Regions from separate parts of the Homo sapiens genome. Here regions 1 and 2 are each linked to region 3. The links come from fine-mapping of genetic effects on plasma protein levels. A gene starts in region 3. Each other region holds a variant in brackets. All regions are shown on one strand. Distances are between the middles of the regions. Region 1 has its middle 66 kb from the start of EPDR1. Region 2 overlaps EPDR1 (ependymin related 1). Region 3 holds the start of SFRP4 (secreted frizzled related protein 4).

What was found. A credible set is the group of variants that fine-mapping cannot tell apart. PIP is the chance, under the fine-mapping model, that this variant and not a neighbour inherited with it causes the effect. Protein levels are from antibody-based Olink assays in UK Biobank. Linkage for the fine-mapping came from a reference panel and not from the study's own genotypes, which makes the PIPs less certain.
Region 1: its variant is the best candidate, but not a certain one, in a credible set for the plasma level of the SFRP4 protein (UK Biobank, PIP 0.67).
Region 2: its variant is the best candidate, but not a certain one, in a credible set for the plasma level of the SFRP4 protein (UK Biobank, PIP 0.51).

The regions. Positions count from the first base shown.
Region 1 is chr7:37,985,342-37,988,105 of GRCh38, reverse strand. No RefSeq gene overlaps it. Among named protein-coding and RNA genes, the nearest start is that of EPDR1, 66 kb to the right of the region's middle. RefSeq lists a silencer at 52-252 and an enhancer at 468-1,220. The variant A/T (reference allele first, on the strand shown) is at 1,552.
Region 2 is chr7:37,931,304-37,934,067 of GRCh38, reverse strand. All of the region lies in intron 1 of EPDR1 (ependymin related 1), which reads right to left. Among named protein-coding and RNA genes, the nearest start is that of EPDR1, 12 kb to the right of the region's middle. The variant A/T (reference allele first, on the strand shown) is at 1,280.
Region 3 is chr7:37,915,781-37,918,544 of GRCh38, reverse strand. SFRP4 (secreted frizzled related protein 4) reads left to right here and starts at 1,728. Exons shown (of 6, transcript NM_003014.4): 1 at 1,728-2,452. The coding sequence starts at 2,008.

The DNA.
Region 1 (2,764 bases), 70 kb before region 3:
ATTTATAACCTACAACAAAGGAGTTTTTAATGTTTCAACAAAATATTTTTAAAGGTCCCAGAACAATTGTAAGTTTCCCCTTCGATGAACAAGATCACATTCCAGTTTCTGTTTGCACAGTCATATCTGTGGTTCCTCATTAGTGTGAAAAGCCAGAACTGCCTGTTCTAGGGAGTGGCAGTGGGAAGGGAAATGAAATGGTATATATGGAGTGAAGCAAAACTGTAAGGGCCATGACTGAGTGGCTGTAAAGAACAAAGTCAGATGTGGTGACAGTATGCCTAGCAGAGAGAAAAAAATAAGTGCACTGTTATTAGAAGAAGAAAACTGGGAAGAGACCTTTGTGTGAAGACAAACTCCAGGAGAAATATAGTTGAGAAAAAGAGAGTTGTGAGCTTTGGGAACTATAATTACTTAAGACAAAATCAGATGTGTGAAATATGGGATGCAGTGGTGCACCAACATTTGACAATTTGTGATACGATTGGAGGACAAGAACACAGGCCATTGTGGGTATAGCTAAAAGGAATACTTCTCATTCTCATGCCATCTCCTGTGCCAGTTACCATGAATTTAGTGGGGCAAATTGATTTTTTGAAACCTACCTTTAAAAAGATTTTTAAAAAAAGCTCTGAATCTTTTAAATTTTGCTGGTTTAGACATGATTTTTTAAAGGTAGGGTTGTCCTCATTGAGGATTTGCCTCTTTGATGACAAATGTCTTCTTAAGGAGATGTTAGTTCAGTGATGTTGTTTCAGCATTCAGGCCAACAAAGGCAGTTGAAGAGGAATGCATGCCGGGTGTCCTAGAGTTCAGCAAAAAAGGACTTGCTCTAGGGGAGGAATTATGAACAAGAGGCTCCAGCTGAGCTAGAAGATGGTGCCCAGCAGGAGGGAAGTGGAACAGACAGATTCCTGCTCTTTTAGAGCTTCAACGATGAAGTCTATTGTTCTGTGGTTTGAGGAACACTCATCATTCACCATAGCTGGTTGACATCATTTACTAAGTTGAATCAAGTACAAAAGGAAAAAGTTCTTTATGATAGGCCAGATTCCATGAGTGGGAATTCCTTGGAGTGAAACAGGGAGAAAATACGCCCCAGTGTTAAAGACTTTCCAGAGATTTTTTCCATTCCACTTTCCACCCCTCCCTAAATCACTCGCCAAAGAAATGCTTTGCTGGACACTAAAGTGGCCACAGCTGTGCTCATAAGAAAACATCAGAATATAAAATTAATCGTTGTATTTTTTAGTTAACCTTTTTGGAGTGTGTGTGCAGGGTTAAAGGACAGGTGCTATTAAGATGATAGACATCTTTGAAATGTTTGGAAGTACTGCCAGTTTCTATGACCAAAAGCTTTCCAAACAGCTGTAATTATTTGAAGGTCAATGAACTAAAAGTTTCCCTGTATTAGCTTTAGGCAAAAAGGTCATTAATGCTTTAGGGGACTGTAATAAATCTGAAAGAAGCTGGCTTGACCCTCCCCTTCTGCAGTTCTCTATCTGATCACCCTGAGATCCTTTTCAACTCCAGCTTCCTGGGAGGCCAGAG[A/T]TGAGCCAGTGACTGACTCCTTGACCAGCCACACAGGGCCTAGAGTTGTACCCTACCTGGATTGGCGAGGTCTTCCATGACTTATGTAGCCTCATCCTCAGATGAGGACCACCACCCAATCCCCTCAAAAAGCCTGAAATCAGTCTTCTATGCTAGGTGTGAAAAAAAGAGAGGTAATTACACTGTTTTATTCCATCAGTGTTTGAAAAAAGTGCACAACTTCTATGCAGGCATCCCAAAGCATCTAGGATTGCAGGGATGGATAGAAAGTCCTTCAATCACAACAGAATTCCTATTTGGCTCTTTAAAAAAGGAGACAGGACAGGCTGACAGATGCTACGGTGCTTAGACCCACATGTTGTCCACAAAATTGGGATTATCCTCTAATTCTAAAGGTATAGCTTTGGTGACCGTTTTGCCATTGGTGCCATCTCTCAGGAACCTGATAATAAACTACAATGTTTTAAACTTGTACTATATCCAGGAGCTATGTAGATATATAAAATATTTTCTTATTTAAATTCCACATGTGTACAATGTAGGTATTATTTTCATTGCACCAATATGATAGATGAGACAATAATTTTCTCAAAGACACTCAATTAAGTTGGCTGACTGCAAAGAGTTTTAGGCAATAAGATTTACATTCTTTACCTTTAGCTTATCATCTTCCAAAGATGATGCTTTAATCATTGTCAGCTGGTTATTGATCATATTGTTCTTTGAGCCCATCCCCATGGGATTTGAAAAATCTGCTTCTAAGCATATCTGGAACTTTTTTACATTTTCCTTTTTTTTTTTTTAAGATGGAAGTCTCCACTATGCTGCCCAGGCTGGAGTGCCATGGTTATTCACAGGAGTGATCGTAGAGCATTATAGCTTCAAACTCCTGGCCTCAAGAGATCCTCCTGCCTCAGCATCCTGAGTACAGCGTACAGGCATGTGCTACCATGCCCAGCCATATCCTGAGGTTTTCACTTACAATAACTGAAGCTCTTACCTTGCCACCTCAGGCCATCTACTAAAAAGGCATAGATATTATTTCAGGGAAAGAAATGCCTGGCTGCAAATATTTTCCTTCAACTGACTTGATAGTTCTGTTAGTGTCTTCCAAGCATAGTTTTCAATTCAGGGCTCATGCAATACTCTTTATCTATTGTGTCTTTGTTTTCAATAGTAATAATATATGAACTTAGAATAAATATGCTCTTCT
Region 2 (2,764 bases), 16 kb before region 3:
GAAGTGGAGCTTGTAGTGAGCTGAGATCACGCCACTGCACTCCAGCCTAGGTGACAGAGCGAGACTCCGTCTCAAAAAAAAAAAAAAAAAAGAATGGCAGAATAAGTGGATGCAGATAAGCCTGGGGTCTTGATGAAACTGTTGAATCAGACCTAGGAACATGTATCCCAAGAATTCTGGAGTAAACAACGAATATTCTTATATTTTAGCATTTGCTAGTCAGATTTTCTGACACTTATAGCTGTAAATATCCTTAATGAAATGAATAAAAACCACTCCTTTATGGATAACATCTACTCAATTCATTACAAAATCTCTATGAGAGCCTTCCCTCTCAGAATGAGCAGGGCCCAAATATTTGACTAATCCTAGAACCCCAAATACCGGAGCTTGGCCTGGGTATAGGTGAACCTGAGCAGCTACTGCCTTAACAGTCAAGAGACAAGTGTTTTTCTGTCACAATTTGGAGTAGTCAGGAAAAAAAGAACACATCCAAAGCAGAGGTTACAGACTGGCAAATTCAGCTGGTTGAACATGTTATTAGCATTTTTATTTTTTTAACAGATGAGAAAATATGAGGCTCACAGCATAACTTCGTAGTTAAGTACGGGATCAACCAGACTCATTCTAACTCTTAAACACCATGTGCCTTCTCGCTCTCAACAGGGGGAAGGAGTGATTCTTCCCATCCATGTAGAACTGCTCAGCCATCCAAGATATATTAAATTACAGAAAAGGGAGTAGACAAATATTATATTGTGATTACAAAAGGACTTTGGCTTTTATGGAAAAAATTGAACAAACTTTGGATTTGTTTAATACGCACTATAATAGATTAGTAATGCATGCCGGCCATCTGACTCTCAAGAGGAAGAATTGAGCCGCGGCCACTTGCCATGCTGGCGTATACTAAGTTTGAGTTACACCCTGCAATGATTATGAGACATAAAAAAGAAAAAACACTATTTCAAAATTGTGTTAGATACAAACTCATTGTGCGCATTGTTGCCAATCACATATAACAAAAGGAAAATTAAATTACTTAAGAATGCAGCCTGAGGAAAAGCAAAATCAAAGAATAATTATGTTTGCCATTTAAGAAGCTGTAAGGTGATGGGCCTCCATGACTTGGATTCCAGTTCAAAAGATGAAAAAAGTGCTTGAGAAATTGAAGAGCTTTTTTTCCCAAAATATATCTGGATGAATATTGGCAATGTGTAGGCAAATACTCTTTCATCTGATGAAAGATAATAAAAAATTTCTCATGAGACAGTAGTGC[A/T]GGCTGAGTTTTGTTTCACCACCACAAAAAGAAATAGCATCATTAGTACTGAGATATCCAGGTTGCCATGGTGCTCAGTGGCTTCTAAAACGACATAGCAGGGGATGTCCTCTAAGAAGGATGGGAAGGACAGTGCAGGGTCAGCATGATGCCATTTAGCAGAAATAGATCAATTCCCACCATGTTGAAATATAAACTCACGCAAACCCTTCCAGCTAACATTTAATGAAACTCTGAAATATAAATCTTATTTTTTATTTTCACTGGGATTTGGGATAGACTGTGTTTACAATTGAAAAGGAATAATGTGTGACCACAAGGATAGCTTTCTGATGAAAAATATCATTATCAAAATAAAAAATAGTAGCAAGGGCCTGTGGTCCCAGATACTTGGGAGGCCGAGGTAAGCAGGCCACTTGAGCCCAGGAGTTTGAGGCCAGCTTGGGCAACATAGTGAGATGTCATCTCTAAATAAATGAGTAAATAAATTTTAAAAATTTAGAAATTAAAAATGCAGTCATGGCTTTGTAAAGCAGATTGACTATGGCAAAAACAACAACAACAACAAAAACCACCTCACAGGCAGTGACTTAGAGGGTATTATTGTAGAATTCAGAGGGGAAAAAAACATATTAAGTGATGAAAAGGCTAAAGCAAAGAAGACATTTGGAAGACAGATGTAATGTAAGAGAACCAGAACAGATAAGCAGAAAGAGATTCTGTAAGGAACCAACAAAAAAGCAGAGTATCAAACCTCCAGAAATACTAGAGGAAAGTTCCCGACCGGGCGCGGTGGCTCACGCGTGTAATCCCAGCACTTTGGGAGGCCAAGGTGGGCAGATCACGAGGTCAGGAGATCGAGACCATCCTGGCTAACACAGTGAAACCCTTTCTCTACTACAAAAAATAAATAAATAAATAAATTAGGCGGGTGCAGTGGTGTGCACCTGTAGTCCCAGCTACTCGGGAGGCTAAGGCAGGAGAATCACTTGAACCCAGGAGGTGGAGGTTGCAGTGAGCCGAGATTGTGCCACTTCACTCCAGCCTGGGTGACAATGTGAGACTCTGTCTCAAAAAACAAAAACAAAAACAAAACAAAGTGAAACAAAAACAAAGTTCCCCTAAAACTACACCTTACCTGGAGATGTTAATAAAATTCAAGGATAATAGAAACAACCTACAAAAACATGGGCAGAAAAAAAATTATTGAAACGAAACCAAATTTAGTTTGGTGTCAGACTTCTCTTTTTTTTATTTTTTTTATTTATTTATTTTTTTATGGAGTCTTGCTCTATCACCCAGGCTGAAGTGCAGTGGCGCAATCTCAGGTCACTGCAGCCTCTGCCTCCCAGGTTCCAGCAATTCTCCTGCCTCAGCCTCCTGGGTAGCTGGGATTACAGGCGCATGCCACCATGCCTGGCTAATTTTTGTATTTTTAGTAGAGATGGGGTTTCACCATGGTGGCCAGGCTGGTCTCAAACTCCT
Region 3 (2,764 bases):
TTCAAACTGGCTGCAGAAATTTGAGCCCTCTCCGAGTTTGCCCTGCTCAGATTCATAGGAAAAGTGTAGGGTAGTTCAGCTCTTTCTCTTGCTCCCCAGGTAGGAACTCCAGCTGAAAATCTTTTTCACCCAGTGAAGGGTTTAGACTCATTGGAGTTTACTGCTAGAAATGGCTTGAGATGTCATCTGGGCTTTCCTCCTCATGTGATATTTTACTAGCCTGGCTTGGCATCTTTGGAGGTGGAGACTGGTTCTATAGGAACTAGATTACCTTTCTAGAGTGGCTTGGCAGTGTAAGAACACCCTGGGCTTCCCCTAAATAAGAACCAGACTCTTTGGATGAATCCTGAAATGTATTTGTCTCATTTATCCTTTTCACTTACTATGTTTAATTCATGTTCCCTAAAAAATAAGATAATGCATTTAAAGTTCTTAGCTTCATACCTTGACCATTGTAAATTCCCAATAGATGTCACTTGTGCTTGTTGTTTCCTCAGCTGTTTTAATCCTTAGTCTTTAGTTTTAATCCTCAGTCAAAACTAAACTAATTGTGTAGGTTTAAGCTTTGGAGAGAAAAACCATGTGCCTTAAATTCAAGTTAAACTATGTTTTTAAAGATTAACATTCAGAGAACATGTTTCCATATTGCTGATGCCCTAATAAATAGCATATACCAGAAGTCTTACCACCTGAAGATTGATATACATCAATCTCATATAAATAAATCCTCCCTTTTCTGTAGATAGCTGAGCCAGCAATTGGACTACCTTTTCCTAATGCAAGTAAGATAAAAGAGAAAGCAAAACATACATACTTGCATCCCATAGTACACAGCTTCTTACTCAACTCAAGCAACAGTCTCTGAGCACATCAAAAATCAAGATTTTAGGCTGCTGAGGTGGAAATCCTTTGGCATGAAGGATCAGAGCAGGGGAGACCTTTCAGATTGTGGTGCCCAATGTTTTCTCCTGGGTTCCACTAATGCTGCAGAGGGGAACAGGGAGTTAGAAGGAAGAGGAAATGTTAGAAGACATTTCTGAAGCTGGAAGATGCTAGCACACCTTCCCCCAGTTCTGTTAACTTCCTGGAGCAGAAACAAACCAAGTGTTATACTGGAAAAATTTCGGCCCAAACTGTCTACTAGCAACAACAACAACAAACCACACTCCACACAACTAAGGGCGGAGTGGGAGTGATTTATACAACGTGACCCTCCTGTTCTGACATTCACTGCACTCTCGCCTGCCTTGCAGGACATTGTCCCAACTGTCCTCAGCGCTCCTCATGCCCCCTACCGGAGAAAGCAAATATATTTCAGAATTAGAGGGCAGCAGAAGCTCCTATTTTCCCCCAACTCTATACTTGGAAAAACTCTAAGGCAGAGGGAGCAAAGTTCAGTTTTCAGCCAAAGAGTGTCTTTCTCTCTCTTGAAATTCTCTCCCGCACCCTCTTGTATCCGGTGTCGAAAACAACTGCCAGAGGTTCTTTTTCTTGGTCCGAAGAAAAAAGACTGGCCAGACTAAAAAGGAGGGACTTTAGGGGGAAAGCAGGCTTCCAGCCCTGGGCTGCGGCCCAGAGGGGGTGATGTCACCGCTTCTGCACCGACGGGCCTGGGGGTGGGGCGGCCGAGGGGGAGCCCGCGCCGCGGCTGCAGCTGCCAAGGGAGCGTTCCGAGCCCACGTCAGGGGAGGTGTCGGGATAAATAGGGTCCCGCAATGGCCGTGGCTGGCTGCGCTCCGAGCTGCGGAGTCCGGGACTGGAGCTGCCCGGGCGGGTTCGCGCCCCGAAGGCTGAGAGCTGGCGCTGCTCGTGCCCTGTGTGCCAGACGGCGGAGCTCCGCGGCCGGACCCCGCGGCCCCGCTTTGCTGCCGACTGGAGTTTGGGGGAAGAAACTCTCCTGCGCCCCAGAGGATTTCTTCCTCGGCGAAGGGACAGCGAAAGATGAGGGTGGCAGGAAGAGAAGGGCGCTTTCTGTCTGCCGGGGTCGCAGCGCGAGAGGGCAGTGCCATGTTCCTCTCCATCCTAGTGGCGCTGTGCCTGTGGCTGCACCTGGCGCTGGGCGTGCGCGGCGCGCCCTGCGAGGCGGTGCGCATCCCTATGTGCCGGCACATGCCCTGGAACATCACGCGGATGCCCAACCACCTGCACCACAGCACGCAGGAGAACGCCATCCTGGCCATCGAGCAGTACGAGGAGCTGGTGGACGTGAACTGCAGCGCCGTGCTGCGCTTCTTCCTCTGTGCCATGTACGCGCCCATTTGCACCCTGGAGTTCCTGCACGACCCTATCAAGCCGTGCAAGTCGGTGTGCCAACGCGCGCGCGACGACTGCGAGCCCCTCATGAAGATGTACAACCACAGCTGGCCCGAAAGCCTGGCCTGCGACGAGCTGCCTGTCTATGACCGTGGCGTGTGCATCTCGCCTGAAGCCATCGTCACGGACCTCCCGGAGGGTGAGGCCGTAGGAAGGATGGAGGGAGGCGAGGAGGCGCCCGGGGCTGTGGCTGCCAATCGAGAACTGGGCGGCCACACCTAAGGCTGCCAGGGGCGTCTGAGGCTTGTAGGAGGTGGGAAAGAATGGGGGAAACATTTTCTTCAGAAAAAGTCTGGTTTCTCCCATAGGAATTTTAGGAGCTAGCGGAGAGCACTGCACCCCATAAAGAAAAAAAAAAAGATTTTGCTTACAAAGGGAGCCTTCGATGATGTTTGCATTTATAGTAATAACAGAAATGATAATAGCAGTAAACAGGTGTTGCTAGGTGTCT